Regions from separate parts of the Homo sapiens genome. Here regions 1 and 2 are each linked to region 3. Evidence: fine-mapped expression QTL. A gene starts in region 3. Each other region holds a variant in brackets. All regions are shown on one strand. Distances are from middle to middle. Region 1 overlaps LOC105371123 (a long non-coding RNA gene). Region 2 holds the start of ZP2 (zona pellucida glycoprotein 2). Region 3 holds the start of CRYM (crystallin mu).

What was found. PIP is the estimated chance that this variant, and not a neighbour inherited with it, causes the effect.
Region 1: its variant is the best candidate, but not a certain one, in a credible set for the expression of CRYM in spinal cord (GTEx, PIP 0.78).
Region 2: its variant is the best candidate, but not a certain one, in a credible set for the expression of CRYM in lung (TOPMed, PIP 0.76).

What each region holds. Positions count from the first base shown.
Region 1 is chr16:21,222,673-21,233,469 of GRCh38, forward strand. LOC105371123 (a long non-coding RNA gene) reads right to left here. Exons shown (of 2, transcript XR_001752344.2): 2 at 4,092-4,913. Among named protein-coding and RNA genes, the nearest start is that of ANKS4B, 5.6 kb to the right of the region's middle. RefSeq lists enhancers at 1-11, 12-537. The variant A/G (reference allele first, on the strand shown) is at 3,224.
Region 2 is chr16:21,211,380-21,222,176 of GRCh38, forward strand. It overlaps ZP2 (zona pellucida glycoprotein 2), which reads right to left and starts at 195. Exons shown (of 19, transcript NM_001376232.1): 1 at 107-195; 2 at 1-16. The coding sequence starts at 168. RefSeq lists an enhancer at 10,780-10,797. The variant A/G (reference allele first, on the strand shown) is at 8,349.
Region 3 is chr16:21,273,301-21,284,097 of GRCh38, forward strand. CRYM (crystallin mu) reads right to left here and starts at 4,990. Exons shown (of 8, transcript NM_001376256.1): 1 at 4,782-4,990; 2 at 4,131-4,284; 3 at 2,232-2,294. The coding sequence starts at 4,951. RefSeq lists an enhancer at 4,782-4,991.

The DNA.
Region 1 (10,797 bases), 51 kb before region 3:
AGAACAAAATGGAGTCTCTTATGTCTACTTCTTTCTACATAGACACAGTAACAGTCTGATCTCTCTTTTCTCCACAATGGGACCAGGATAAAGTGTTACTAAAACACATAGCAGCTAATTTTGCTCTGCGTGGCCACTTCTGTATCCTTGGCTAACCTGGGAAATTATCCTGCAAGTGTGTGTGTGTTCTTTCTACTGATCAGTAATTCAACTGCAATTGGGCAATATGCAAGTTTGCTTAAGTCTTATAACCCTGTGAGTGCAGGTGTAAATATCCCCATATCCCCAAGAGAACAGCCTTTTTAATGCTTGAGAATTGGCCAGACATGCTGGAAATGGGGACTAGAAGAGCTTTCACACAGGCGCATAATATGTATTTGGTGACTGATTGGCACAGAAGGAAATGAGGGAGGGTTAGGATGTAACTGATGTGAGAGGAAATGATAGGACATTGTCACACTCAAAAGGCCATTCGACATGGTTACTGGAGCAAGGCAAATACTGTACATGAGTGAAGTCGGTTGGGTGCAAGGAAATGGCTTTAGTGTGATGAGAATGGCAAGTGACTAACTATTGCCCTCAGGGTCAGGATTACAGCTCTGGGCAGCTGGGGGTGATGTGGACTGTTGAGTCCAGGCTGCATCTAAAGAAATAACTGCTTTGGCTGGGCACAGCGGCTCACACCTGTAATCCCAGCACTTTGGGAGGCCAAGGTGGGTGGATCCCCTGAGGTTGGGAGTTCGAGACTAACCTGACCAACCCGGAGAAACCTCCTGTCTACTAAAAATACAAAAAAATTAGCCGGGCATGGTGGCGCATGCCTGTAATCCCAGGTACTCTGGAGGCTGAGGCAGGAGAATCACTTGAACCCAGGAGGCGGAGGTTGCAGTGAGCTGAGATCGCGCCATTGCACTCCAGCCTGGGCAACAAGAGCAAAACTGCATCTTAAAAAAAAAGAAAAAAGAAAAAAAAGAACTGCTTCCCAGCTCAGGCAGAGGTAATTGTCATGATCTTCAGTTTCTCATCTGGAAGCTGAAAATCCAGATTCCATTCAATTTCCTCAATTTTAATGTTGATATTTAATGTTAAAGATATTTTCAAAATCCTGTGCCTGCCAAACAAGACATATCTCTGGCCATATTTATTCCCATCCACCAGCAGCCTGTAACTTCCAAAACCATGGAGAGACCATGCATATAGTGGCTGAGCTGCTGCTCACCCTGTGGGCGTGGGGCAGGAGGCGAACCTGCAGCTCCTCCCACTCCGTCCAGATCTCCCCCTTCAGCTTCTCTGAATCCTAGGCCAGGTGCGTTTGCAGCTTTGTCTATGGTGAAAGGTGGCAGCTTATCCTGTAGACACCTGTGTCGTCGAGGTTGGGGGTGGTGAGAGACAGGCGTGGGTTTCGTTTTATTCTCTGGGGTTCCAATTTGTCTCTGCAGATTCTAATTTGTTCTTTTTCTTTACTTCCTCTCCATCTTTACTTCCCAATTGCTGGCCCTACGGACTTTGGGTCTAACATCTGGTGCAGAAGAAATAGCCTTACTAGACAGCTTACCTGGCTTCCAGGTATAAGCTTAATCTCTGCAATAAACCCTTTATTCTATATCACTCAGAATGGTTCTGCTTCTCTGATGAAACCTGACTGATACAGAATTTGGTTGCTACCTCCTTATATGAGAGGCAAGGAACCTGGATTGCAGATAGGGACAATAACTCTAGGTCCTACAGTTACTTAGTGACAGTCCTGGGAATTGAATCCAGGGTTCCCCTCATCTCTGCTTTTTACTTTTTCCCCTGTGTTTAAAGAAGTTGATTCTCACCTTTGTATAATCTTTTTTTATTTTTTTGCGACAGAGTTTCACTCTTGTTGCCCAGGCTGGAGTACAGTGGCACAACCTTGGCTCACTGCAACCTCTGTCTCCTGGGTTCAAGTGATTCTCCTGCCTCAGCCTCCAAGTAGCTAGGACTGCAGGTGCGTGCCACCACACCCAGCTAATTTTTGTATGTTTAGTAGAGATGGGGTTTCACCATGTTGGCCAGGCTGGTCTTGACCCCCTGACCTCAGGTGATACATCCACCTCGGCCTCTCAAAGAGCTGGGATTACAGGTGTGAGCCACCATGCCTGGCCACCTTTGTATAATCTTTAAAGCATCTTTTCCATAAAATGTCCCCCACCATTCAAATAACAGCTGAGTCCTGCTAAGTCTCCTTTGATCATAGCTCTGTAAGCCACTCCTTCCTCATTTGGTCCTCTGCAGGTTTTGTAAGCCACATGTACATCGTTCACGTTTCATCCAGAGTTCTGGGAAAGAGTAGGTGGTTCCCAGAAACAATGTGAGTTCATGAGTCTTTCTAAGAAGAAGGGAAGAAAGTTTTTGTCAAGGCCACAATGTATAGACCTTGTGCTAAGCACTGATTTATAAATAATCCAGATAGGAGTAAGAAAATGAAATGAAGTCTCCTTGAGGTGAATTTTCCTCCAGTTGATAGTAGTAGAAAGCTATTATGGGCTGAAAATATATCTCCCCCACCATTCATGTTGAGGTCCTAATTCCCAGCACCTCAGAATGTTACTGTATTTGGAGATAGCCTTTGATACGGTTTGGCTCTGTGTCCCCATCCAAATCTCATCTCAAATTGTAATTCTCACGTGCTGAGGGAGGGAGGTGATTGAATCATGGAGGTGATTTCCCCCATGCTGTTCTAGTGATAGTGAGTTTGTTCCTATGAGATTTGATGGTTTTATAAGTGTTTGGAAGTTCCTCCTTCATTCTCTCTCCTACCACTGTGTGTGGAAGATGCTTGCTTCCCCTTTGCCTTTGCCAGGATTGGGTTTCCTGAAGCCTCCCCAGCCATGTTGGAACTGTGAGTCAATTAAACCTCTTTCCTTGATAAATTACCCAGTCTCGGGTATTTCATTATAGCCGTGTGAAAACAGACTAATACAGCTTTTACAGAGGTGATGATGTTAAATGAAGTTATTAGGGTGTGCTCTAATCAATATGACCATCTTATAAGGACCAAGTGTCCTTATAAGAAGAGAAAATTTGGACACAGACATGTGAAGAGGAAGATGACATGAAGACACAAGGAGAAAATGGCCATTTGCAAGTCTTTTTCCAGGAGAGAGGCCTGGAACAGGTCCTTTCCTCACAGCCCTCAAAAGGAACCAACCACGCTCACACCTTGATTTCAGATTTCTGGCTTTCAGAACTGTAAGAA[A/G]ATAAATTTGTTTAAGCCACTCAGTCTGTGGTACTTTGTTATGGAAGTCCTAGTAAACTATTACAAAACCCCAGATTGAAATTCAATTCTGTGTGACTGTAAAATATATATTATTTTTATTATACCATGATAAGGGGTAGGACAAAAAAAAAAAAACAAAACTAGGTCTCGGCTGTTGTTATTGAGAAGGAAAATGCAGAGAAAAGAGAAGTTTTAAGAAAATGCTGCATTTATATAGATTGACTTAAAGAAAGGAGAAACTTTCTTTCTCCTAGTGCTAGTACTACTATTAATTTACTTTAATTAAGTGCTGACTACACACCATAAACTGTACTTAGTATTTTACAAATATTCAGTAATTACTTGCAACAACCCTGTGAATGATTCTCTTTTAAAGAGAAAAGTACTGTCTTTATTTTACTGATGAAGAAACTAAAGCTTAGGGAGAAGTAATTTGCCCAACTTAATGGGAAGATCCAATCTGGGGCTTAATATCTGTCAGTCTCTGACTTCAGACCCCATGTTCTCAATCATTATTCTACTCTGGCTTTATTTCAACACAATGCTTGGAGTTTACATTTGCTTGTCTTTCCAATCCAACCATCAGCTTTGTAAGAGTTGAACGGTTTTGATGGTATTTGATGATCTGCTAATGGATGCTATAACACACCTCCCTTGTGGTAAATTCTACCATCTTTGAAACAAAATGGCACCTAACATAGGTTTTTCCAATGATTGTCGTTCCTGCAGTTTTTCTAGAACTTGAGTTATAGAGGGGACCTGTTGGTAGAAGAATTACATGGATTGAAATTTTCAAGTCACAGAACCAATAATTAGGAAGAAGGAAAGACATAAGAAAAAAGGGAAATTTGTTCAGCTAACAAAGCCAGTTTAATCAAGTGTAGAATTTAAATTCCTAGCCCCTGCTTAGACTATCCAGTATTCAAATTTGAAAGAATTTGTTTTTGGAAGCCTTTATAAAACTCTTCACTGTTACAATGTATGCCATCTGGGATTTAGCATTTATAAAATGTGCAGTTAAGAGATGCCAAGAGATTCCTCATGCAAACCAGATGGTACAATAACAGCTCTGTCTTTAGTTTTCTGCCAGAAAAATAGGCCTTTGAATGGCTTGAAACTTATATGAATAAATTAAGCTCAACCAATACTTCAGGGACATTACAATTTCAATAGGCAACTTATCCACTTAAATATTTTTATAAATGTTTTCATTTAGAAAAGAAGAAACAAAAAGGCAGACAATGATTCTTTTTGATTGTTAAAGAATACAAACATGATACAATGCTTTTAAGGAAAACATCAATGACTTTCAATGTGGGAAAGAAAGTTTCTCCTTATTTTGACAGTGTTATATGTGTTTGTTTATTTATTTTTTGAGACGGAGTTTTGCTCTTGTCGCCCAGGCTGGAGTGCAATGGCACAATCTCGGCTTGCTGCAACCTCTGCCTCCCAGGTTCAAGTGATTCTTCTGCCTCAGCCTCCCAAGTAGCTGGGACTACAGGCATATGCCACCACGCCCAGCTAATTTTTGTATTTTTAGTAGACACGGGGTTTCACCATGTTGGCCAGGCTAGTCGATGAATGTGTTTAAGTTAGAAGTGAAGTTGTTGAAATTTCTTCCGAATAGGAGAAATCCATATCAAATAGGTTGAACAGTTGTATCATTGTGCTAAAGAGAAAAGAATACACATGTAAGTGACATTTTCTGGATAATATATTTGAGCACATCTTTACCTTAACAGATAGTCTCTCATAAACCCAAGGGCAGTGCATACAGCAGTGTGTTACTGATGGCTTCTTTTGTCCTTGCCTGGTTCCTGCAAGTTTTCTATGGAACAACAGGACTTTTGTATTACTCTCTAATTTCCCTTACTTTGTTACTGTTTTTATTTTCATTAAAATTCATAATAAGATCCTCATTAGATGAAGTAATCTTGTTAAAAGCAGTGTTCTACTCTGATCTTTTTCCTTCTTATGTAAAAAAAAAAAATGTGCTTCCCTACCATACAAGTGAATTTCTTCTCTAATTAGACATGAATAGCTTTAGAGATCAAACACAGGCTGCTTTTGAAAACCAGATCTCTTAGGACACAGGGGCAATCTCATTACTGAAAATATGTGTTTCTGGGTTGCACAAGCCATTGAATTTCTTTCCCAATTAGCAGCAAATGGTTTTTCAGAACAATGAGGAAGAAGTTTGGTTTGTACTTTGCAAGTGTTGTTTTTTTCTTGGAGTTAGACTGGAAGTATCAACTACCATCATCTCTGTCCCTTCTTTTCCTCTCCCTGAGCAAAGGAACACACATGACTCTGTTTTATAGATAGTCAGAGTTCCAGGTAAATTCTTCATCCAAATGCTACTTCCTCTGGGCCAGGATTGGACTCCATGGTAGAAGGAACACCTATTTAAGACTACCTAGTTGTCAGCTACTGTCAGCTGTTATGATGTTAGGGGAGACTGCAAAATCATAAACACAGCAATGAGAAGCTGACAATGTCCTTGCTCTGGGGGGAGGAGGGGAACCATTCATGAGAGAATCTCTCCAAGTGCTGCCCCTAGAAGCAGATTAACCATGTTTTCTCTGGGTCTTTGGCAAAAAAGAAGTGGTGTCTGTGGAGAAGGGCTTCTTATCATTAAATAACCAACTGCTTGGGGTTCCAGATAATAGGTTGAGGTTCTAGAGTTTTAGGACAGTGCAGGAGGAAATAAGACCTGCCTGTCTAAACCTAAGTGTCAGTCAGAGTCAAGGGAACACAGAGGTCATGGACAGGATGTTTCTCTAAGTTGAGACATACTAGTAGTGCAGGAGTATGGGGAGATATGAGGAGCATGGCGAGGCTCCAACAGGAAGGTTGATGAGAGCTTTGACTTGGGGTCACTGCCACTCAGGTCCGAGCCTCAAAGTCTCTCCAGTGTGTGTCTGGCAAATATTCTTCTCTGGCCTTCCAAGAGTCCAGCTGTATGCTGATGGAACACGCTCAAATACTAATTTCCACAAGATCAGTACAGTCAAGAAAATCCACAACTGCCCCCACAATTACCATGACTCCTCACAAGGAATTAATGTCTACATTATATGCAAATTCGTGTTAGCTCTTTTTATTAATTTCTGCCCTTACCATCTCCCACCAATTTTGTTTCCTTTGGGCTTTGAGGAATTCAAAAATGATTACTGGGCTAAAACTTCCTCTGTCTGTTCCCTAAGCCACAATCACACTACTTCTAGTTTGTAAAAACATGCTTTATGGGTTGCAAGAAATTTTATTTCTTCATCTTTACTAAAGTTAGTTGATGCTGATGATAATGATGATATGATCACTAGCAACATCCCCCAGTTTTATCCACAAGGATATGGAGACTCAAATAGATGGAGTAACTTTTCCTGGATTATATGAACGCTAGGTCTTCAACCCTCCTTCCCAACCTCACCTTGAAGGGATAGGATAAGGAGGATCTTCAAGTTCAGAAAAATGTTTTAAATCCTTATCTCTGCCCCCACTTCCCCACCCCCCGCTGCCCCTGCCACCCCATTCTTCTCCCAAGGAGGAAATTTTCCCAAGGGCGTGCCAGAGGATGCCAGGATATTTACCATTTAAGAAAGTTTGGTTATTTCGCCATTTCACAGGAGACTTTAAGTTCTAGTCCTAAGGACTGCTGGAACTGAGAAATTCTTTCTCTTTCTTGTCTTCTATCTCCAATCCTTCTTCCCCATCTCTATAATTATTCTGTCCTCTTTACCCTTTGCCTCCATCCTGTGAAACTTAATCACGCAAATTGCATCATTCTTGTTATACCCAACTAAATCAGGGTTGAGAGGCTGGGTGGTGGAGTTGGGGGAGAAAGCACTCCGAGTACAAAAAATAAATAAATAAATAAAAATTGCTCCAAGAACGTAATTCTCAGCAAGACTGACTGCTGGAACTGCCTGCTGTAACCCGGGAGCAGTTTTATTTACAGCTGCTGAGATAACTTGCTGCAACTCTAGGACAAATTTTGCCCACTAATCAGAGCTTGCCAGCTCCCCAAACCCTTACTAGTGCCAATGAACTTTCTTGAAGAGCAATATGTAACATTTCTCTTGTTAATAAAACCTCTAAACTTCTCTTTTCTTCTTCAGACATACTGAAGACCACCTGGTCTATGTGTGTATCCCAAATTGCAAGTCTTTTTCCAAATAAAACATTAAATTTAGAGATTCAGCTCTAAATTTTTATTTTGACTTTGACAATCCTCATCCTAATTTGGCTTATGACCATCCTAGTGGCCACTATTCTTCTCTTTCTCTTCCTCTTCCTCATCCTTATCTTCTGAAAGCAGACCCTTTGGCTGGAGTCTTAGGATTCTACTACAAATAATACATCTTTGAGAAGTTCTCTATCGGTTATATGTATTTTTATTTTTTATTTTTTTTGCACTCTGTCACCCAGGCTGGAGTGCAGTGGTGTGATCTTGGCTCACTGCAACCTCAGCCTCCCAGGCTCAATCAATTCTCCTGCCTCAGCCTCATGAGTAGCTGGGCTTACAGGTGTGCACCACCATGCCCAGATAATTTTTGTATTTTAGTAGAGATGGGGTTTTGCCATGTTGGCCAAGTGGGTCTTCAACTCCCGACCTCAAGTGATTCACCCACCTTTGCCTCCCAAAGTGCTAGGATTATAGGCGTGAGCCACCTCGCCTGACCTGTTTTTAAATTTCAAAGTGCATTAATGAATGCAGTTGTATCTAAATTAAAGTGGCTCATGCAAAACTTGATGAAGAACCTTACCATTTTCTCACAGTATTCATAATCATGTTTGGATATGTCACTCTCTCTGGGCTAAAAACAATGTTTAAAAAAAGCTAAATAATGCTGCCCTCCAGGCTGCTTCTACTGCTCTTCACCTAGAAGCCAGAAAAAGGAACAAACAGTGACCTTTGGAGCTCATTATTATTGTGAAGAAACTGTAGATGAAAGCTTTGTACTTTTTCTGAGTGGGTAAATAATTTATCTTGGAATAAAAACTTAGACAAAAAGAGATAAGAGGAATATACAGTTACAGGCTTCAAAAATAGATATTTCTCACATCAGTTTAGTGGACAATTATCTAAATATATTAAAGATTGTGTAACAATATGGGGATATATTTATGATGGATTAAGGAGTGGAAAAGATGTAATGTAAAATTATATGTATTTGATGAAAACAATGTAAAAAATACACCACAGGAGAACATATGCATAGTTGATGAGTTATGTAAGGATGGCGGTTTCTAATTTAGTTGCAGTGTCTTCAGAGAACACGGTTTGCATGAACCCTGTTATTTGTTATTTGTCGAGAACTGCACTGCTTCTATTCAGTGGTCAGGTTTTATAAATATTCTGTGTGCTTAGAAAAAACATGCATTTACTATTGGGCACAGGGTCCTTTCTCCATGTGACTGTTAGATCAAGCTTGTTAATTGTGTTCAAATCTGTTTTTCTTCTTTTTTTTTTTTTTTGAGATGGAGTCTCACTCTGTCACCAGGCTGGAGTGCAATGGTGCGATCTCAGCTCACTGCAACCTCCGCCTCCCGGGTTTAGGCGACTCTCCTGCCTCAGCCTCCCGAGTAGCTGGGACTACAGGCACATGCCACCATGCCCAGCTAATTTTTGTATTTTTAGTAGAGACGTGGTTTCACCATATTGGCCAGGATGGTCTCAATCTCTTGACCTCGTGATCTGCACCCCCTCAGCCTCTCAAAGTGCTAGGATTACAGGTGTGAGCCACTGTGCCCGGCCCAAATATTTTATAGCTATACCAATCTTTAGTCTGATATAGAACATTATGATGATGTCTGAAATCTTCCCTTATGATTGTGGTTTTGTTTTTTTTTTTCTGTTTAATTTTTGCTTTCCCTTTTTTGCAGCTGTGTTATTTAATTTATACAAGTTTAAAACGATCATAGTTTCTTGATTAATTGTTCCTTTCATTATCATGTATTATCTCTCTTTATGCCTAGTAAATTTTTTTGGCTTAAGCTATATTTTTCCTTGCTACCAATACGGGTGCTCTTCAACTTACAATGCAAAACCACCATAAGTTGATATAATAACTCAGTTGTGAGCTGAGAAGCATACTAAATACCTGTCATTTTTGTGCCATCATAAAGTTGAAAAATTAGGTCAAACTCTCATAAGTTGCAGACCATCTATGTGGGTACACCAATGTTTTGTTAGTATTTGCTTGCTATAACTTTTCCATTTTTTGCTTTCAATCTTTCTGCAATTTTATATTTTAGATATGTCTATTATAAACAAGACATGGCTGAGTCTTCCACATCATAAATTTAGTCCATTTTCTTTTGTTTTTATTACAGATCTGGAAATTTTTTGGTCTTATATTGTACTCCTTATAGTCATTTTTCTATACTTTTTCTCCTTCCCTTGAGTTATTGATAATATGTTTAAGTTATTGATTTGAGATCTTTTTTCTTTCTCATATATGCATAAAAAACTACAAATTTTGCCCTAAGCTTTTCTTTAACTGCATCCTATAAATCTTGATATGTGGTATTTTCATTTTCATTCTGTTCCAAATATGTCTGATATAGGACTTGTATCCAGAGTATATAAATAATTCTTATAATTTATTAATAAGACAACCACTTAAAAATTGGGCAAAAAGATTTGAATAGAAGATGTAAGAATGGCTAATGGGCACATGAAAAGATGCTCAATATCTTAGTCATTAGGAAATTGAAAATTAAAGCCATAATAAGACCACTTCATATCCACTAGGATGACCATAAACAAAAAGATAGGCAATAATAAGGCTGGCAAGGTTGTGGAGAAATTGAAACCCTCATACGTTATTGGTGGAAATGTGAAGTAGTACAGCCACTTTGGAAAACAGTCTGGCAACTTCTGAAATTTAAATGTAAATTGCCATGCAACCCAGCAGTTTCACTCCTTGATATATACGCAAGACACATGAAAATATGTGTCCACACAGAGACTTGTACATCAGTGCTCATAGCAGCATTATTCATCATTACTGAAAAATGGAAACAACCCAAATATTCATCATATTCATGAAACATTGAATGGATGAAGAACATGTGGTATGTTAGCACAGTGGAATATTATTCAGCAGTGAAAAGAAAGAAACCATTACATGCTACACATGACAAACCTCAAAAAAGTATGTGAATTGAAACAAGCTATACACTAAAGACTATATATTGTAGGATTCCATTTGTCTGAAATGCCCGTAAAAAACAAATCTATAGAGACAGAAAGCAGACTGTGGTTTCCTGAGGTTGGGAGTGGAAATGGGATTGACAGCAAATGGCATGAGGGATCTTTAAGGGCTGATGGAAACTGGATTATGATAATGGGCATGCAACTCTATAAATGTCCTAAAAATCATTGAATTGTATGCATGAAATGGGTAAATTTAATGATGTTATACCTCAATAAAGCTGTTCTTTTTGGAAAAAACAGCTAGTGAACTAGAGTAGCTCTGCATTTTATTAAGAAATTATTTCTTACATCCTGTGCCTAGATGGCCAATATTACACTCAAGAAACTAATG
Region 2 (10,797 bases), 62 kb before region 3:
AATCGACCTGTAGGTGCTGGAAAGAGACAGGGAGATAGTCAAGGAAGAATGGACTTTAACAAACAAAGCTACCATACCCCCTCCCTCCACTTCCAGAATTACTCACCTCCAGCCTGCATTGAACCAGCCTGAGGGACTCCAAGAGCCTCCTCTCTGCCTGCACGCCATAGCAGAAGACACTACCAGATCAACCAGGTAGAGGGTAGGCTGCTCTGTGTTTTTATAGCAGGAAGCCAGCCGCATCCACACCCTCTCCCCATTGGGGGCACCTGAATCTTGTCCCATTCTCCCAGCTGAAACGGAAGGATTGGGGAAGGAAGTGGCCTCTGATTCCTGACAGCTTGCGCCGGGTATTCTGCCAGCTGCCCTGTGGGCCAGGCATGAAATCAGAGTTTGCTGAAATCAGCTCCAGGTGAGTGAATTGGTGTTTTCCCTATAACTATGGGGGAAATTAGGATCTTTTGGGCAAATTATTTACAACTGCAATGTAGAGCCAAAGAGAATCATGGGCTTTATTGAGAAAAAAACAAGTCTTGTTCACACCACTACATTTTTTTTTTTTTTTTGAGATTCAGTTTCACTCTGTCACCCAGGCTGGAGTGCACTGGTGCAATCTCGGCTCACTGCAACCTCTGCCTCCTGGGTTCAAGCAATTCTCCTGCCTCAGCCTCCTGAGTAGCTGGGATTACAGGTGCACGCCACCACACCTGGCTAATTTTTGTATTTTGAGTAAAGATTGGGTTTCACCGTGTTGGTCAGGGTGGTCTCGAACTCCTGACCTAGGTGATCCACGTGCCTCGGCCTCCCAAAGTGCTGGGATTACAGGCGTGAGCCATTGCACCTACCCTAAAACCTTTTAAGTAACATCTAGTCTTCTGGCTACTGCAGAAGTTACCCTGATAATGCACAGGAAGTGTCTTTAAAAAAATGAATGAAGCCTTGTTGACCCCCAAGTGTAAAAGCTTAAGCTTACCGCAAAGATACAATTTCAGAAGGATACAGAGAAAAGGCAAAAGTCACTCATAATAGTGCCACTGCTAATATTTAGGTGAGTAACTTTAGACATGTTTCTACAAACACCACACACAATTTTTTTAAAACACTGGGAGGAAAGTTTAAATACTGTTTTGTAATCTGCTACTGTCACTTTATAACTATTAAACATAAAGCTCTCTGTTACCATTTTAGGGTGGCATAATATTCAATTTGAGATAAATCTGTGTTTATATAATTTCCTTAATTATGAGCATAAGGTGGCTTGTAATTTTTCATCATTATAAGCAGTAACATGATGAGCATTCTGATACATATCCTTGGGTAACCCTCAAGATAAATTCCTCAAAGTAAAACTTCTGGGTAAAAGGGAGTAGTGATCTAATAAGAATGTTATATTGTTGTAAAGCACTTGGAAGTTTCCCAGTGGGGAAACTGAGGCAAGGCAACTTGCCCCAACAATGTCAGGGACCAGGTGGAGAACTCAGATTTCCTGAGGCCTGATGGTTGTGTTTTTTCAACATCTCTCACACTCTTTGAGATAACTAGATGTCTGCAGCCCATGTTCCAAAATAGGTGGATATAAGGCTTAGACTCCATTCAAGTGGTGGGTGACACTTGCAATTATTAGGCTGGTGCAAAAGTGATTGCAGTTTTTGCCGCTACTTTTATGTATGTATGTATGTATTTGAGATGGAGTCTTGCTCTGTTGCCCAGGTGGGAGTGCAGTGGCGCAATCTTGGCTCACTGCAACCTCTGCCTCCTGGATTCAAGCGATTCTCCTGCCTCAGCCTCCCGGGTAGCTGGGATTACAGGCGCCCACCACCAAGCCCAGCTAATTTTTGTATTTTTGGTAGAGACAGGGTTTCACCATGTTGGCCAGGCTGGTCTCGAACTCCTGGCCTCAAGTGATCCAACCGTGTCAGCCTCCCAAAGTGCTGGGATTACAGGCGTGAGCCACTGTGCCCGGCCCTTTGCCACTAATTTTAATGGCAAAAACTGCAATTATTTTTGCATCATCCTAAACTGTATTGATTCATGTGTTGCCTTTGAGGTGTAACCTGAGGCATCTGAAATAACATTGGAGATTAACTGTTTCCCTGACTTCCTTGATCAAAAGGATCACATGGAGCTCTCATTAATATCACAGATTCCAGGGTCCCACCCAAAAGCTGCTGAATTAGACTCTCCAGAAGATGTGCCTGGGAAATATTTACTTAACGAGCACCACAGGTGATTCTTATAATCAGGAAAACCTGGAAAATACTTGGAGGGAGCGAGGCGAGAAAATCTGTGGTGGCCAGTGGTTAACCTCCTTACGGGAATTGAGTAGATTACATCCCAGCGGAATTGGGAAGAAGGAGCAAAATACAGATAAGTTTTTGGGGATAGAGATGGTAAAAGGATTTCATTTTATAGCCAAAGCATGATAGCAATAGTTTCTCCTTCTATGCATATTTTTCTGAAAAGTGGCACCTTTTCTACAAATATAATTTATTGCCACAATGGTTAAGACTATGATAAGACATTAGAGGAAAAAGGAGCATAGACGTGAGACTCAGAGCCCTATTGAGAAGGTGGTCAGAGAAGTGATGGGTTAATGTGCTTATTCAGCCTCCCTCAGACCCCACCTCCCTTCCCACCGCGCTACTCACTCCCCTCGAGATGGTGTCTTTCTCCAGAGCGGGAAGTTTTTGCCTTGGAAAGGGCAGCTTTGGTCAGAGCCCCCAAATTTGGGGTTTCTAAAAGGTTAAGGGGCAGCACAGAGACCCCAAGCAGGAGATGTGGTGAGAAAGCCCGCTGTGGGCTGGTGAAGCTGGTATGTGCACCAGAGATTAATTTTGTTTGTCTCACCTAACCCAGACCTGTGGTGTGCTGGGGACAGCCACCGAACAAATGGCTCTGGGCCCAGGAGCATCCATGTCTAGGATTCTGCTCCGGAAAAGCAGGAAGCTACCATCTGTTCAGCAACTGACTTTGAACACAGGAAGAAATAGCTGCTCCGTAAAACAGTGTCTCCTATCAGGAGGTAGGAAAAACTAAAGTTATTACAAAAATGATTCTTAACATTCTGTTCTCACTTATAAGTGGGAGCTGAACAATGAGAACACATGGACACAGGGAGGGGAACATCACACACTGGGTCCTGGTGACAGGGGTTGGGGGGTGGGGGCAGGGAGAGCATCAAGATAAATAGCTAATGCATGCGGGGCTCAATACCTAGGTGATGGGTTGATAGGTGCAGCAAACCACCATGGCACACGTTTACCTATGTAACAAAGCTGCATGTCCTGTACATGTATCCTGGAAATTAAAATTAAATTTAAAAAAATATTGCGCTAAATAGGCCCGGTGCAGTGGCTCACGCCTGTAATCCCAGCACTTTGGGAGGCTGAGGCGGGTGGATCACCAGAGGTCAGGAGTTTGAGACCAGCCTAGCCAACATGGTGAAACCCTGTCTCTACCAAAAATATTAGCTGGGCATGGCGGCACACACCTGTAAATCCTGCTACTCGGGAGGCTGAGGCAGGAGAATCGCTTGAACCCAGGAGGCAGAGGTTGCAGTGAGCCAAGATTGTGCCACTGCACTCCAGCCTGGGCAACAAGAGTGAAACTCTGTCTCAAAAAAAAAAAAAAAAAAAAGGCAGTAAACAAACAGCAGACCTCGTTCAAATATATGTGTTCCACACTCTTTTCAATGAACCTCTTAAAGTTTGCTGATTTATTATTACAAGGTGTTCCTTCTCCTCTTCTCTGCCCTGGGTTCTATGTATCATGAAACCATTTCTCTCTTGCTAATCACAAGGCATTTCTTGACGGGGTTCTCATACATAAAAGAAAGACTATAGTTTTGTTGTTGCCTCATTTGGGCAGATGTCTTCCTTTCTGAAGTGTGGTTCTTATAAATGACAGTTTATAATTCTTAAATTCTGAATCTGCTGCCCTTGTTTTCCACAACAATTATAAAAGTATTTATAAAAGACAACCTAAATATCACCATCTAGAGATGGTTGGATAAACTATGGAATACTCTTCAGCTACTGCAAATGATTCTATGAGTTCGTTCAGATCTGTGAGTACTGACATGAAAGATGTCTGCAATAAAACTGGAATTTCAGGGCTATATATCTACTATGCTTTCATGTTTTGCTTTAATAGGAAAATGAAAAACCTGTCGACCTAAAGGAAGGAGAAGAGAATATAGTTTTAAAGAGTTTACTTGAGGCAAAGTGTGGACAGCTGCCCAGGAAACACTTCCAAGTTGCCTTGGTGAGTTCTCCACTTTTGTCACAAGTGGGTGTTTTTTTTGTTTTGTTTTTTGTTTTTTTTAGACAGAGTCTTGCTCTGTCGCCCAGACTGGAGTGCAGTCGCACGATCTCAGCTCACTGCAAGCTCCGCCTCCCAGGTTCACGCTATTCTCCTGCCTCAGCCTCCCGAGTAGCTGGGACTACAGGCGCCCACCACCACGCCCAGCTAATTTTTTGTATTTTTAGTAGAGATGGGGTTTCACCGTGTTAGCCAGGATGGTCTTGATCTCCTGAACTCATGATCCACCTGCCTCAGCCTCCCAAAGTGCTGGGATTACAGGCGCCCACCACCATTCCTGGCTAATTTTTTGTATTTTTAGTAGAGACGGGGTTTCACCATGTTAGCCAGAATGGTCTCCTAACCTCGTGATCCGCCCACCTTGGCCTCCCAAAGTGCTGGGATTAGTGGCTGATACAGTGTTTCTTGACTCATTGATTTACAGAAATAACACTGATTAGCTGGGTACAGTGGCTCACACCTGTAGTCACAGTGACTCAGGAGGCTGAGGTGGGAGGATAGCTTGAGCCCAGGACTTTTAAGGCAGTCTGGGCAGCATAGCAAGATCCCATCTCAAAAAAAAAAAAAAAACACTGATTAGTGATTGGCTATACATTGTTGAACTATAGGGTATGATTAATGGCGTCCAGCATATGGTATGAGTTATGATGTCCAGTGTATGGCATAGTTAGGTTAATTTTATGGCTACTTGGTGTCAGTCTAGAGCCCACATATCAAGTAGCTCCAAGAGATAATTACTGAGCCCGAGGGAGTGAGGTGTGACTGCTGTCACGTTTCAATGCCTCTCTGGGCCTGATAATTTAAAGGGACTTGCATTCTTCAGATAAAAAGTTTCTTTTCTTTCTCAAACTTATGTGTATATTTATACTTTATGTGTCTGCATGTGGGTCTATACATATGTATTTGGATTACAAGTCAAGAAAGTTGTCCCAGAGAATCGACAGCATCATCCAGGAAAGGAGAGGGTTGCCAGGGTCCGGGGAGTCCACGTGGCTGTGCTGGGCATTTGCGACCATTGTCTATTCTGACTTGTTCGTGCTTTTGCTGTATGGGTTTTAAATACATTGAATATCATCACCGGGAATAGGATTAAGGAGATGGGAGGGTTGGAGCACAGAAAACAATTCCCCAAATGTGCCTGGGCATGCCAAGTGCTTTGGAAAATTAAAAGGCTTCAGAAATAAGCCTCAGAATCAAGGTCTCTCTATCCTTGCCTTGTTCCCTTTCCACCCCCAAAGTACAGGAAGGAACTCTCTCTGGGGAAAAAAAAAAGAAAGCTCCTTCTTTTTTTTTTTTTTTTTTTTGGCAGGGCTTTGGTCTTGTTGCGCAGGCTGGAGTGCAATGGCATGATCTGGGCTCACTGCAACCTCCACCTCCCAGGTTCAAGTGATTCTCCTGCCTCAGCCTCTCAAGTAGCTGGGATTACAGGTGCACGCCAGCAACCATGGCTAATTATTTTTTTTTTCTTGTATTTTTAGTAGAGACAGGGTTTCACCATGACGGTCAGGCTGGTCTCAAACTCCTGACCTCAAATGATCCACCTGCCTTGGCCTCCCAAAGTGCTGAGATTACAGGCATGAGCCACTGGGCCCAGCCAAGGCAGCTTCTTAACAGAAGAAACACTATTGCCTTCTATCCCCTCCCTGAAATCTCATTATCTATAGCAGGAAAGGAGACTAAGGAATGTAACCACACATGGACAGACTTTTCCACAAGATAATGTCAGCCTCTGAAGCTCAGTCAAATTCCAAAGATAATTATGTACAAGTTAATTTCTCTCTCCCTGGTCTGTTCATTCTCCCTGATAATCATTATTGCCCCTCAAGAGAATTGTCTACAGTCCCCATCTCCTCCCTCCCCTATGAAAAACTGTATATACAGCCAGGCACGGTGGCTCACACCTGTAATCCCAGCACTTTGGGAAGCCGAGGCAGGTGGATCACCTGAGGTCAGGAGTTTGAGACCAGCCTGGCCAACATGGCGAAACCCTGTCTCTACTAAAAATATAAAAAATTAGCCAGGCATGGTGGTGTGTGCCTGTAATCCCAGCTACGCAGGAGTCTGAGGCAGGAGAATCGCTTGAACCCGGCGGGCAGAGGCTGTAGTGAGCCGAGATTGCACCACTACACTCCAGCCTGGGCAACAGAGCAAGACTCCATCTCAAAAAAAAAAAAAAAAGAAAACCCACCGTATATATGCATCTGTGCCCCACTGAGGGTTTAGGGGCAATTACTCTGTGATTCCCACCTTCCCCTGCACATTAATAATTTTGTATGAATTTTTCTCTTATTCATCTGCCTTTGGTCAGTTTATTTTCAGTGAACTTTCAGAGTGCAAAGGTGGGAGTTTTCTTCCTTCAGCCCTTAAAGAATAAGTAACTCCTGCCTTTCTGACTTTGAGGGAGAAGAAAAGGAAAAATCATTTGGGATAAACAGGCTGCACCTGCACACAGATAAGCAACTTTGTCTAATTAGCGAGCTCCTAGGAAAAAGTTTCCTCCCCTTTTCAGACATATCCATGGTGGGAACTTACACAGGGAGGAGGGGGGCTTACCTAAAACAAACCCGCAGTTATCAAAACAAGAGACGCAGGCTTTGTGCTTGCCTAGATACATGCCCACAGTTGCGTAAGATACCGGGAGTTGCACAGACAGCTTTACTGATGAGAAGTTACTCAAACTGCTAGAGATGAGAGAGGAGTTTCTTAAAAAAGCTTTTGAATTCAGCTGTAACCTGGCAATCCACTTGGACTCCCCTCTCTGCTGCAGAGAATTTTTTTCTTTCACTTATTACTATTCTTTTTTGAGACGGAGTTTCGCTCTTGTTGCCCAGGCTGGAGTGCAATGGTGTGATCTCGGGTCACTGCAAACTCTGCCTCCTGGATTCAAGAGATTCTCCTGCCTCAGCCTCCCAAGTAACTGGGATTACAGGCATGCCCCACCACACTCGGCTAATTTTGTATTTTTAGTAGAGATGGGGTTTCATCATATTGGCCAGACTGGTCTCAAATTCCTGACCTCAGGTGATCCACCCACCTCGGCCTCTCAAACTGGTGGGATTAGAGGTGTGAGCCACCACACCTGGCCTCTTTCCCTCATTAAACTTTCACTCCAACCCACCTTTGTGTCCATGTTCCTTAATTTTCTAGGAGGTAGGACAAAGAACCCAGGGTACTAGTTCAGACAATGAGAAAGTCTACATTAAGGTGCATTGGTGAGGTTCCAACAACTTTATTCCCTCTGTTTTGGTTGAATTGTTTTAGTGATAAAATAACCAATTAAATAATTATAGACTGGGCATGGTGGCTCACGCCTATAATCCCAGCACTTTGGGAGGCTGAGGCTAGAAGATAACTTGAGGCCAGGAATTCAAAACCACCTTCGACAGCATGGCAGGACCCTGTCTCTTAAAAATTTATTTAGTTAGTTAGTTTTAGTTTTTTGAGACAGAGTCTCACTCTGTCACCCATGCTGGAGTCCAGTGGTACCATCTGTGCTCCCTGCAACCTCTGCCTCCCAGGTTCAAGCTATTCTTATGACTCAGCCTCCCCAGCAGCTGGGACTACAGGCGTGTGCCACCACACCTGGCTACTTTTTGTATTTTTAGTAGAGATGGGGTTTCATCATGTTGGCCAGGCTGGTCCTGAACTCTTGACCTCAGGTGATCCATCCGCCTTGGCCTCCCAAAGTGCTGGGATTACAAGTGTGAGCCACCGTGCCTGGACAAAAAAAAATTTTTTTTAATAATAATTTTGACTGATTTCTGAGTGAGCTACCTAAGTTACAGAGTCTAAGGCTCAAGGATGAAAACTCAGTAGTATAAAGGTAAAAAGGCGAAATGAATGGATCCGGAACTTGAGGCTTTGAAACAAAGTCCAACTCCCTATGGTAAAATGAAGATATTAAGAGGTTTAATATCTAAAGAGGTTTAGTGACTTGCTCCAGGTCATTTACCAAGTTAGTAGCAGATAGAGCTCCAGTGAGAAACCAGGTCTCCTGATGCCTCTCCCTGCCCTTTCTAATTCATTTC[A/G]ATTTTCTCTCTCTCGCTGTGTGTGTGTGTCTGTGCATGCGGGGGTGTTTTAAAACTCTGTGCTTCTCTTGCAGTTCACTTGTCTTTTAAAAGTACAAGATGACATTAATTAGAATTTTAGCAGTATAAGATAAATAATATAAAAACTTCTCCCAGTTATGCTAATGCAGCTCAAAATAGCTTTCAAATATCAAATATGAATTTAACTTGGAAAAATAAGATAGACTATGTCAATGAGAATGTTCTCGAACATCATATGGTAGTTCCTTTACCAATCTAATATACAATGTTAATGTTGTTTTCCCCTTGGGTCCTTTAGACAGATCCAAGTTGAATGAGCCTTCTGACAGTAATAAATTCAGAAAGAACTAGGATGAAAGCTTTATCGATCTATAAATATAAAGGTAGGGCGGCATCAATATATGGAAGACAGAAGGCCCAGAAGTCTTTTTTTTTTTTGAGATGGAGTCTTGCTCTGTCGCCCAGGCTGGAGTGCAATGGCGTGATCTCGGCTCATGGCAACCTCCGTCTTCCAGGTTCAAGAGATTCTCCGGTCTCAGCCTCCTGAGTATCTGGGATTATAGGCATGTGCCACCACGCCCAGCTAATTTTTGTACTTTTAGTAGAGATGGGGTTTCACCATGTTGGCCAGGCTGGTCTCGAACTCCTGACCTCAAGTGATCTGCCCCCTCCAGCCTCCCAAAGTGCTGGGATTATAGGCATGAGCCACCACACCTTGCCTTTTTGTCTTTTTTAACTGTTGTTGCTTTAACGTCTGTTTTGACTGATACAAGAATAGCTATTCCTGCTCACTTTTGATGTCCGTTTGCATGGAATGTCCTTTTTCACCCCTTTACTTTAAGTTTATGTGAGTCCTTACATGTTAGATGAGTCTCTTGAAGACAGCAGATACTTGGTTGCTGAATTCTTATTCATTCTGCCATTCTATATCTTTTAAGTAGAGCATTTAGTCCATTTACATTCAGTGTTAGTATTGAGAAGTGAAGTACTATTCTATTCGTTGTGTTAGTTTTTGCCTGAATACCTTGTGTTTTTTTTTTCATTGTGTTTTTGTTTTATAAGTCCTGTGAGACAATGCCTTAAGGAGGTTCTATTTTGGTATATTTTGAAGATTTGTTTCAAGATTTTGAGCTACTTTTAGCAGTTCTTGTAGTGCTGGCTTGGTAGTGGCAAATTCTCTCAGCATTTGTTTGAAAAAAAACTGTGTTTTTCCTTCATTTATGAAGCATAGTTTCACTGGATACCAAATTCTTGGCTGATAATTATTTTGTTTAAGAAGGCTAAAGACAGGACCCCAATCCCTTCTAGCCTGTAGGGTTTCTGCTGAGAAATCTGCTGTTAATCTGATAGTTTTTCCTTTATAGGTTACCTGATGCTTTTGCCTCACAGCTCTTAAGATTCTTTCCTTCATCTTGAATTTGATCATTATGTGCCTACATGATAATCTTTTTACGGTGAATTTCCTGGGTGTTCTTTGAGCTTCTTGTATTTGGATGTCTAGATCTTTAACAAGGCCAAGGAAGTTTTCCTCAATTATTCCCTCAAATATCTTTTTCAAACTTTTAGATTTCTCTTCTTCCTCAGGAATGCCAATTATTCTTAGGTTTGGTCATTTAACATACTCCCAAACTTCTTGGAGACTTTGTTCATTTTTAAAATCCGTTTTTCTTTGTCTTTGTTGGATTGGGTTAACTCAAAAGCCTTGTCTTCGAGCTCTGCAGTTTTCTTCTACTTGTTTGATTCTTGTTGGAGAATACCTGGATACTCATTTGGTTGTCTTTATCCTAGATGGGTATGTGGGTTTGCCTATGCTGAGGTTGTTTCAAGAACCAAGAGAAGTCAATATTGTAAGAGATTAGTGGTATGTGTATGTGTATGTTTATGCATGCATATAGATACATATATATGTTTTTCTAGAGTAGCTTGCATATAAAGGGGCAGTGATATAGCAAGAAATAAGCTGCTGTTTTTAACTATGGCAGGACTCTGCTTGTTCAGAGAGTGTGTAAGATGCCCACACAGCAATGACACTATGGGATGAAGGGGTGCCCTGCCCCTCCAAACCTGTGGGTGTTTTCTTGTCGGGTGGGATGAGAGACTAAGAAAAGAAAGAGACACAGAGACAAAGTATAGAGAAAGAAAAGTGGGCCCAGGGGATCGTCGCTCAGCATACGGAGGACCATGCCGGCACCAGTCTCTGAGTTCCCTTAGTATTTATTGATCATTATCTCTACCATCTCGGAAAGGGGGATGTGGCAGGACAATAGGGTAATAGTGGGGAGAGGTTCAGCAGGAAAACATGTGAACAAATGTCTCTGTGTCATAAACAAAGTTAGAAAAGGTGCTGTGCCTTGATGTGCACATACAGAAACATATCTGGTGCATTAAAGAGCAGTATTACCGCCAGCATGTCTCACCTCCAGCCTTA
Region 3 (10,797 bases):
CTCTCAAGGCAACAAGTAAAATAGACCCTTTGTTCCTTATTGAAACAGTTCATCTGAGCCCCTGGAAATAAAGCTGTGAAGTTTCAGCCTAAACTTTGAAGTGTCTAAACTTTGAAGTGTCAACCCAAGGCTTCTTGATTCTTCTGGGAGCACAGATTTTTATTAATGCAACAAAGCAGTGTTATTGCAGGCTGGGTCTACAAAAGTGTGGTTTCCAGACCTGGTTGATCCTCACTCTGTGATTTTGATTCAGTAGGCATGGGAATTTGAGTTTTTAAAAACTTCCCTAGCTAATGCTGCTGCATAGCTTGCTTCTGTTGGAAACTTCTTATCTGGGACAAGACCATGTGGCCTCAAAAGGACCCGCAGGAACCTGGTTGTATGACTTCAGGAAACCCAAGTTTCTATTCTTTTATGCGTAAAATGAGGCCATTAATACTTTCTCTGCCTTCCTCACAGAAACTCGTAGTCCAGACAAGGGGCTGGAAATGAGTTTGAAAAAGACTAAAGCTCTTTGCAAATGACAGTAATACAAGATTCATTCTGTTCCCAAATTACCAGCAAACATAGCAAGGAGTCCTTGATTACTTCAGTTGAGTCAGGTCTGGATATAACTAAAAACCAGTTCATTGAGGTGGGTGCTGTTGGTCTACTCCCTTCGCATACAATTACCAGATTAATCCTCCCATTCTTCCCTCCCCAGCAGGTATCTAGAAAACCTCGACATGCAACCTGAACACCTGGTCTTTGCTGCTGCAACTTTCCCTGGGTTACCACGTTTCCTTTATAATAACTTAGGAAAACCAGTGTCCCAAGACCTTGTACTTCCACATTTAATGTGAAAGACTCCAGACTCCAATCGTTCCCACAGACACCCTGTTTCCTAAGCCTCATCCTCTTAACTCTAACTTTTAAAAATGCTGTTTTTCTTATAGGATGCCTTGACATTGCTTGGGAACATCATCACCCCCATTGCTTACTGTTCCCTCTGCCTGGAGTGCCCCTCCGTGTTTTTGCATGGTTCGCTAACTCACTGCTTTCAGCTTTGACTCAAATGTCACCTTCTCAGGGAGGCCTTTCTTGGATAATGTAAAATGTGACAGCTTCTCCAATACTCTCACTTCTGCTTTATCTTCACCTAACATGTTATGTGGCTTTTTGGATTATTGTTGGTTTTATTTTTTAGCAAATTCTAAGCACGCTATTAATCATTTATTAATATGTACTAATTATTTAATTACATATTATTTATTACTATTTAACACATTATTAAACTCAACAGATGTTTTTGTTTGTTTTGTTTTGTTTCCTTTTTGTTTTGTTTTTTAAGACACTCACTCTTTTGCCCAGGCTAGAGTGCAGTGGCTCGATCTGGGCTCATTGCAACCTCTGCCTCCTGAGTTCAAACGTTTCTCCTGCCTCACTCTCCCGGGTAGCTGAGATTATAGGCGCCCACCACCACGACCAGCTAATTTTTGTGTTTTTACAAGAGACGAGGTTTCACCATGTTGACCAGGCTGGTCTCCAACTCCTGAGCTCAAGTGATACGCCTGCCTCAGCCTCCCAAAATGTTGGGATTACAGGCGTGAGCCACTGTACCCAGCCTGTGTTTTCCTTTTTATTGGTATTGTCTACCTCCCCTGTGTGTGCCCCTCTGTTTTTCTCACTGCCATTTCCCTAACATTTAGAACAGTGCCTGACACATGATAGAAGCCCAGTCAATACTTGTCGAATGAATACAGGGATCTGGCTTGGATATGTTCAGTTCACTCAGCCTCTTGTGTAGTACTAGCTTTGGTCTATGGGACAATTATACTGTCTTACCAGGGGCAATGTGGTACAGGGACAAGAAGCCAGTCCTGGAAGCCAGAGAGGTCAAGTATTAAATTCTTACTCTAGCACTTATTAGCTGTGTGATCCTGGGCAATTCACAGAAGCTCTCTGAGCCATATTCCTTGACCTGGAAGGTGGAGAGAATTTCTCATTTCGATTCTTCAAGACTGATGGGAAGATTGAGAATTATGCACATAAGGTACTTGAAATCTGGTCATGCACACTAATTGGTAGCTAATAATTTCGTGAATTACTGATATATCTGACATCTGGAGTTCCAGCTATGTCCAACAGGAAACCAAAATAAGTTCCCCACTTCTCCTTTAGTCTCTCAAGATTGAGACACCAGACCCCACTTGACAGCTCACCTTAATGGTACAGCCAGCCATTCATCTTACCTTGGTGGCAATGGCAGAAACTGCAGCTGTTCTCTTTGCAGTTATGACATTTCCATCCATGACCTTGGAGGAAAAGAGAGACAGTGAGCAAGGGGAACCCCTGTCCACTGCATAAATTAGAAGAAACAGTTCTAAAATATTAGCTTAGGAAGTTTTATAGCATCCTACAAACAGCATGGGTTTGGCGTCAGACCTGGATCCGATTCCTCCACTTACGAGATATGCAACTTTGAACAAACACTTTAATCTTTAAGCACTGGTTTCCTCACCTGTAAAAAAGATAATGCCAGCCATTCAGAGGGTTATTGTGAGGATTAAATGCACTGGCATATCTGGAAACATCTAGCACATGGTGAGCCCTCAAGAACTGCCCATTTTCTTTTCTTGCCCTAGGATTCTCAAAACACCAAATTAAGAAGGAACTAGAGAGAGAAGGTTGCCAATTGACATCTGGACAACGGCCATGAAACTCTTAGTGGCTCTCCGTTCCTGCTGCACATGTGGAAAGCTTCGTGAAGATGCTCAGATACCACCCTTAGATTAACCCAGTCTGTATCTCTTCCAGGAGTGAGACCCAGACAGCCCAGGTGATTCCGATACACAGCGAAGGTTGAAAATTATGCCTCGCTAGTAAAAACCATCCTCTGCACTCCTCTCCCTGTTATTCATCTCAGCTGATCATCAAAAAATAGGCATCATCAACCTCATTTTACAGATGAGGAAGTGAATCACGAAGTCACTGAGCAGATTCAGCTGTCATCTAGTTTCAAAGCCTTGGGTTCTACCCCCCTAGGGAACCGCTGTTGGCAGGTAGTATGAATGCCATCTCGGTTGGATGAGTGTAAGTTGGGGAAAGCTAGATATTCTCAAAGGAGTGTTAAACGGCCAGATTATTTGGCGATCCAGAAATTCAGGGGAAAAGGAGGGACATTGTAAGACCCAGCTTGGAGCGCACAGACCTTAAGAGTTAACTGTCACACCTGGGAGTGATTCTTGAGTCTTTCACTAACCAGATGTGTGACCTCAAGCAAAGTGACTCTACTAACCTGAGCCTCAAGGACCTCAACAGAAATTGGGGGGAAGGGGAGTTAATAAAAACACCCATAGAGGAATTTTGCAGAATTGAATGTGATCAGCGTCTCCTTCTTGGCACATAAGTGCCCAATATGTAGCAGTTAAAATGGCGGTGGTCTTAGAAGAGTCTGGACCTATGGACCGTGGACTTAGACTGAGCAGCTCTGAAGTCCAACCATGCTAATTGTTGGTTACATAAACCTCGGTAAGTTGAACATAGTTGCTCTGACTCGGTTTCCTCATCTATAAAGTGGGAGTAATCATATTACCCATATCATAGAATAGTTTTAAGTATTAAGAGGATTAATAAATGTGAAATGTTTAGAAAAGTGCCTGATGCATTATAAAAAGTACTCCATAAACACAAGCTACTGCTACCTTTTGAAACTATGATTAGATATTAAAACAGGTCACACCGTATACCCCTCTGAAGACTCCCAGGGATTATAGAACACCCCTTCTTTTCCATGTCGACAAGGATTCAGTAAGTAAGTCTTCCCTTGGCTAATGGGTTCATTCAAGCTGCGTATTTGGGGCAACTGAGTATAGGACAAGGACATATGCAAGAATGACAACAAGATTATTATTTCCACACTGTCACATGCTTGAGGCAGCAGTGGGCGCTGGTGCCGTGTTATGCATCCTCAGGCAGTCCTAGAAATAGATACATGGACACAGATAACCTTCACTGTTGCTGGTATCCAGTCACTTGCAGAGGGGCACGCGTAGTCACAATCAAGACTCCCCCTGCTGCGGAGAACTTACTTTTGAGCTTCAATCTGGGCCCAGGGGCCCCATTCCACCCCGGGACAGGAAGTTGCTCACCGCCAGCAGGGTGCCATTGCTGGGCTCAAAGAGTAGCACAGTAGCCTGGTGGGAAGGGACGACCGAGGTGATGCCGCGGTCCTCGTAGAAGGTGACCAACTTGGTGGTCAGTGCATCCTCTGCAGCACTGTAGGCGGGCATGACCCCCAGGTAGCTACAAGGAGAGAGGGAGCAGCTTCAGCCCCTTCCCATCAATGCTGGGGTCTCTTAGAAAGTATCCATATACTTTCCTTTTTCTTTCCTTCCTCACCACCCCACTGGCCCTCTTCCAGCCCCCGCATCCCTCTGCCCTTCCCTTAGACACTATGCACAGTATGTTCAGAAGTCTGGCTCTGGATCAGAAAACCTTTCCAGCTCTGCCACTTAGTAGCTGTGTAAGCTTAGGTAAGTCACTTAACCTCTCTGAGTCTCAGTTTTCCACCAATCAAATGGTGGTATCAATACCTCCCTAGGTGGAGAGTGTGCTGAAATAAACAAGGTAACACCTGTAAAACGCCCACTTAGCACACCGGGTAGCGCCTATTAAAAGTGGCAGCTGTTAGCAACGGTTAGGCAAGCCGTCTCTTCCCTTCTCCCACCCCTCCTCTTCCTGCTCCTCCTTTCCCCGCTTTCCAGTTTCTCCTGCCCCTGACCCCGACCCTCCTCACTCACCCCCTGTGCTTGGTCACCGGCACCACGGTGCGCACGGGCTGCATGACCCCTCCTTCGGGACCGCTGGAGAAGTTGGCCAGGGCCGTCTCTAGAGGCGGGATGAGGAGGCTGGAGCTGCGGAGGTGTTCCTCCACCTCGGCCGCGCTCAGGAACGCTGGTACCCGGCTCATCTCGCCACCTGTGCCTTCTAACCTCAGTCTCCGCACCGCGATCCACGTACCCTCGGCTGTGCCCTTTATGAGCGCGCCCGCTGCTCTGTGGAGCCGCCTGCTGGTCACAGCCCAGCCTCCGGGGGCGGAGCAACCCCGCCCCGCCCCGCCAGCCCTCTCCTCCCCCTTCGCCCACCTCGACCCCTAAGGGTGGGCGAGATGGGTCCCTTCCAGCAACGGATTCCCCAAGATGGACATCGCGGTGGCGTGCTGGGAGTCAATATTGTTTGGTCCACTTTCTCAGTTCCTGTAATCAGCTGTAGCCACATTCCTTGACTTTTGCTTCCTACATAACCCCTCCCTATTAACTCGCTTTTTGCTGCTGTCTAGGTCACCGTGCCTGGGAAAGAATGGACAGGGAAAACGCTAACGGGGCTCCTTTATTTATTAAATTACTGCCTACTGCTAGGAGATAAAAGGAGACGGAGGCTTATTTAATTTTTTTTTCCTTTTAATTCTGTCCCCGTCTAGAGTCTCTTATCCTAGTCTTCCTCCCCCCTGTACCCCCAGATGTCTGGCCTTTGATTGCTAAGAACGCACAGTTTTCTCACAGGCTAACTAACCTAACAAACCTTCGCCTTTAAAGGGGGGAAGTTTGCAGGGCAAGGTGTAATCTTTTCCATCTCACAAAAAGCCAAATTGCAGGATCTTTTCTTCCAGGAGTTTTTACCTGAGATGGGGAAATAAAATCGGAAAGGAATGATGTAAAGCTTAAGGCAATAAATCCTAGTCATCAAATCAGTGATAGGAAAAGTAAGTTAATTCAAAGAAAAGAGAGATGATTTTGACCTGGAGTGGTTAGATAAGGGCTTCATGAAAGAGTGGGGAGAAACCAAGGTCTGAAATAATAATAGTGACGACAACAATGATAACATCAGGTTATTGATCTTTACTATGTACCAGATACTGCACCATGCACTTTATGTATATTATCTCATTTAATTATACAACAACCTCTAAGGTAGGGAGGTGTTGTTATTAGTTTTACTGTCCATTGGAGGCTCTGAGAAGGGAAGAAATTTAGTTCAAGGTCATCCACCAAGTCAGCAGAGGAGCTGGCTTTGCCCATGGTTGGACTTCAGAATTATATTCCTAATCATTAAGCTACTTTGGCAGAAAGAGAGGAAGAGGGCATTACAGGCCAAGTAAAGCCCTGAGGTGGAAGGCATGTTGAATAGCTCTGGGAACAGTGAGTTGCCAGATGTGTTAGGCTGGAATAAGGTGCTGAGGTCTAGGAGCATCAGAAGATAAAACTGAGAACGATTCTTGGAGTCAGGCAGCTGAGAATGGTGATTCCTAGGAAAGAAATTACATGCTCCAAGAGAGTAAGCATTTAGAAAGATGGGTCTTCTGCCAATGCAAAGGATGGAACAGATGAGCGAGAGCAGAGCCTGGGAGAAGGTCAAGAGGCAGGACTGCTGAAGTTGTGCTTTGTGGTATTTTGGTTGGAAGCTACATAGGGCATTTTGTAGGAAATGGTCACATCATGATAAAAGACAGTGGATGAGTAAGTGTCAAAATCAGTACCAATGAAATGAGAAATTGTACATAATGTGTTTAGCAACAGTGCTTGGCACAGAGTAGCCATGTAATAAGTGAACACTGAGAGAGAAAGAGAGAGAGAGAGAAGACACTGGTGGTTGGGAAAAGCTGATTTCAATGACACAATTTTGTTTCTTCGGTTCACCATCCCTAGAAATTTATGCCCAGAGCCGCTGGGCTTATAGAAATGTTTCTGGCCCATCACGTGTGCTGTTAGCATTAATATTACATCACATTTATTGGGTTTAGAAAGCACAGACATATAGCCCTGGCATGATAGTTCACGCCTGTAATCCTAGCACTTTGGGAGGCCCAAGTGGGTGGATTACCTGAGGTGAGGAGTTCGAGACCAGCCTGGCCAACATGGTAAAATCTTCTCTCTACTAAAAATACAAAAATTAGCTGGGTGTGGTGGCGGGTGCCTGTAATCCCAGCTACCCAGGAGGCTGAGGCAGGAGAATTGCTGGAACCCGGGAGATGGAGGCTGCAATGAGCCAAGATTGCACCACTGCACTCCAGCCTGTGTGACACAGTAAGACTTTTTTGGCCCTTTGTTTTTGTGAATGTGAACTAAAAATAAAATCCTATGCCCCCCACCTACTGAATGAACCCCCTCTGGGCCAAGCAGACCCCAGAAAAACCTTAAAGACTTAGTTTCCAGCCATGATGGGATGGCAAATCAGATATGCCTCATTACATCCTCTCCCTTTTAGAGTTTAGACACAACTGAGCAGCCTTAATGTTAATACAGAGATCACAAGACTGACAGAACAGACTCTTTGTGGCAATACGATAACAAATTATAAACAGGATCTAAGGCCATGCCAGGAAGGGTTAAGTCACGCACCCTTACACTTAAAGAAAAAAGCTATGTTCTAACTGCCACAGAGTTTTTGTTTTCTCCAGCAGCTAAACAAGCACTGGCTTGAAGATAAGCAATATTTTTGTTTTTGTTTTCCCCAGCCCTGCTCAGAGAAGATAGGGAACATGGCTTGGGCACAGTGGCTCACACCTGTAATCCCAGCACTTTGGGAGGCCAAGGCGGGCGGATCATGTGAGGTCAGGAGTTTGAGACCAGCCTGGCCAACGTGATGAAACCCCATCTCTACAAAAAGTACAAAAATTAGCCAGGTGTGGTAGCATGTGCCTGTAATCCCAGCTACTCAGGAGGCTGAGGCAGGAGAATTGCTTGAACCAGGGAGGTGGAGGTTGCAGTGAGCCGAGATCGTGCCACTGCACTCCAGCCTGGACAACAGAGTGATTCTCTCTCTCTCTCACTCTCTCTCTCTCTCTCTCTCTCTCTGTATATATATATATACACAAACATATATGTATATACATATATACGTATCTATGTATCTATATAGATATGTATATGTATCTATGTATCTATATAGATATGTATATATGTGCATATATATATATATAAATTTTTTTTTTGAAACAAAGTCCCTCTCTGTCACCCAGACTGGAGTGCAGTGGCATGATCTCAAGTGATTCTCCTGCCTCAGCCTCTCAGGTAGCTGGGATTACAGGTGCATGCCACCACCCCCGGCTAATTTTTGTACTTTCAGTAGAGATGGGGTTTTGTCATGTTGGCCAGGCTGGTCTCGGTCTCGAACTCCTGACCTGAGATGATCCACCCGCCTTGGCCTCCCAAAGTGCTGGGATTACAGGCATGAGCCACCGTGCCCGGCTGAAGATATGCAATATTAAAACAATTACAACTCATCCAAATCACAGATATTGACTAACCGACCCCTTGTTCCACCAGCCATAACTACAGCTTGATTGGACAAGAGACTGATTTCAGTAACTTTCTCCTGATAAGACTACCGACTATAGGATGGTTCTGGCTGACTTACAGAGGTTGCACACTTGCATGCCTTCATGTCCTGAAAAGACCTTTTGACGTATCAGGCTGAATTGTAATACATTTAAATGCTGCAACCACCCCAAAATGAACATGAGTTGTATGTAACATGCATGTTTGTTAAATACACATGCATCAGGACCACTTTCATGAATATTCATAGCTTCTTCTCTCACCTGTTGAATATGTATATTTAGCCAACCTGTTGAGCATAAAGCTCCTACCCCAACCCTCCTCCTTCAAAGTGCCTGTCTCTGATCTTGGCCAAGGCATGTGATATGGTTTGGCTCCATGTCCACACCCAAATCTCTTCTTATAGCTCCCATAATTCCCACATCTTGTGGGAGGGACCCAGTGGGAGATGACTGAATCATGGAGGCGGGTCTTTCCCCTGCGGTTCTGATGATAGTGAATGAGTCTCACGAGATCTGATGGTTTTAAAAATGGGAGTTGCCCTGCACAAGCTCTCTCTTTGCTATTGCCCTCCATGTAAGATGTGACTTGTTCCTCCTTGCCTTCCACTATGATTGTGAGGCCTCCCCAGCCATGTGGAACTGTAAATCCAATAAGCCTCTTTCTTCTGTAAATTGCCCAGTCTCAGGCATGTGTTTATAGACAGCATGAAAACGGAATAATACAGCGTGCTTCCCAGCATAGGATCCCACCTTGCAGGCTGTAACCTCGTATAAGAAAGTCTCTTCTTGTCTAAATTTATAAATTGTGTGGTTTTTTTTTTAAAGTTAACAAGGAGAAAAAAAGCAAAACCAAATACTCATCAACTAAAAGAGATATGAAATAAGAAAGCCAGATATTTATTTGCTTCCATAGTAAATTCAGGAATTTAGCCCCGATTAAATAGAAATCTTATTTCTGACTCCCACATTACTAGAAAGTTTATTAATCTTCTTTAAGTCATGATTATAATAGTAATTTCATTATTTTAACAATGACAAAATAAGAAACCTCAATAATAGGAATTCACTCCAGTGAATCCTGTAGAAACAGGACAACTCTGCAAATCATCTCAAATCATCTTCCTGATAAAGCTTTGGTTCACATCACCCAGGTCCTCAGTAAAGTAGCACTGAGAAAACTAGTCTTGGTTGCATCACTTCTTTTGAGACCAGAGGCACAGAGAACTAATTGTCCCAAGCCTCCAATAATAAGTATTATTAATAAGTAGCATATTAAATATTAGGTGTTATTGAGGTTTATTTTATTATTATTAAAATAATGAAATTATTATTATAATTATGACTTAACAGAAAGAAGATTAATAAACTTTTTAGTAATGCAGGGGTCAGTATTGAGAAAGCTGGTGTAAATCTCTTTTCCCCGCCCTTCCCTGAGACCTTGTCCTGGGACAAGCCTGGGGGCCATGTAAGCTCCTGTGCCTGAGCCTCTGGAAGTTCCCTGCTAACCCCTAACAGACCCTGCGGAGGAGGTGGTTACTTACATCCCCCTAGACTTCTGCCACTACCACAGTGAAGATGGCAGCAGGGTAGAGCTGTACCATAGTGAGGTACTCACCTATGGCACAAAATGTACGGGATTCACTCAGTAGTCATGATAAATATTAAACTAAAACATCTAAATGCAATATTTAAAATAAAAATCAATGCCAAAAAATCCACAGTGAACAGAGTACAAAAATTTTCAACAAAGACGGCTCAGGATTACTGACTTTTCCTTTTGCTGTAGATGCCAATACAGCTCCTCACGAAATTTTATCTTTACATTTTATTTTAAAATGTAAAAATATTGTATAAAAGTCTTTATTTTGACTATTGAGTTGGCTTCACCTTGAATGCTGCAGCCAAGGCGCGTGTCTCATTCCCCTTATCCCTAACCTCTGTCGTCCTAGAGTTGGGGGACTGAGCGGTGGGCCAGGACAAGCAACGGATGAAGTATCTCGGAAGCCGGAGAAGGGTGGTCTGGGGCTCTTGGGAGCATGCGCGGGGTGGGGCGGTGGGGGGACTGAGGTGGCGCTCCCGGCTCCTCCGCGCGCCCCCGGCACCTTCCGCGCGTCCCCGGCTCCCCACACTCCGTCCCCGGCTCCCCACACTCCCACCCCGGTCTGCCCCGGGCGCCCCCGGTTCCCCACCTCCTGGTGTGCCTCTGGCGGGTCCGCGCAGGATCAGGCTACAGACTCGCCCGCGGGCGGCTGCGCGGCGGGCCGTTGGGGAGGGTGTTGGGATGAGGAGCCCCAACCAGATGGACGCGCACCCCGCAGCGGCGGAGGCGGCGGCGAGGCTTGAGCAGTGAGTGCTCGGGAGCCCCGGCCAGCCCTTCCTCCTTCTGCCTGCGTCCTCTGCGCTGGCCGCTGCTCCAGACGCCAGGGGGCCCACCCGCTGCCCGTGGTCGGCGCGCGGAGCTCGAAAGCGCGCGCCTC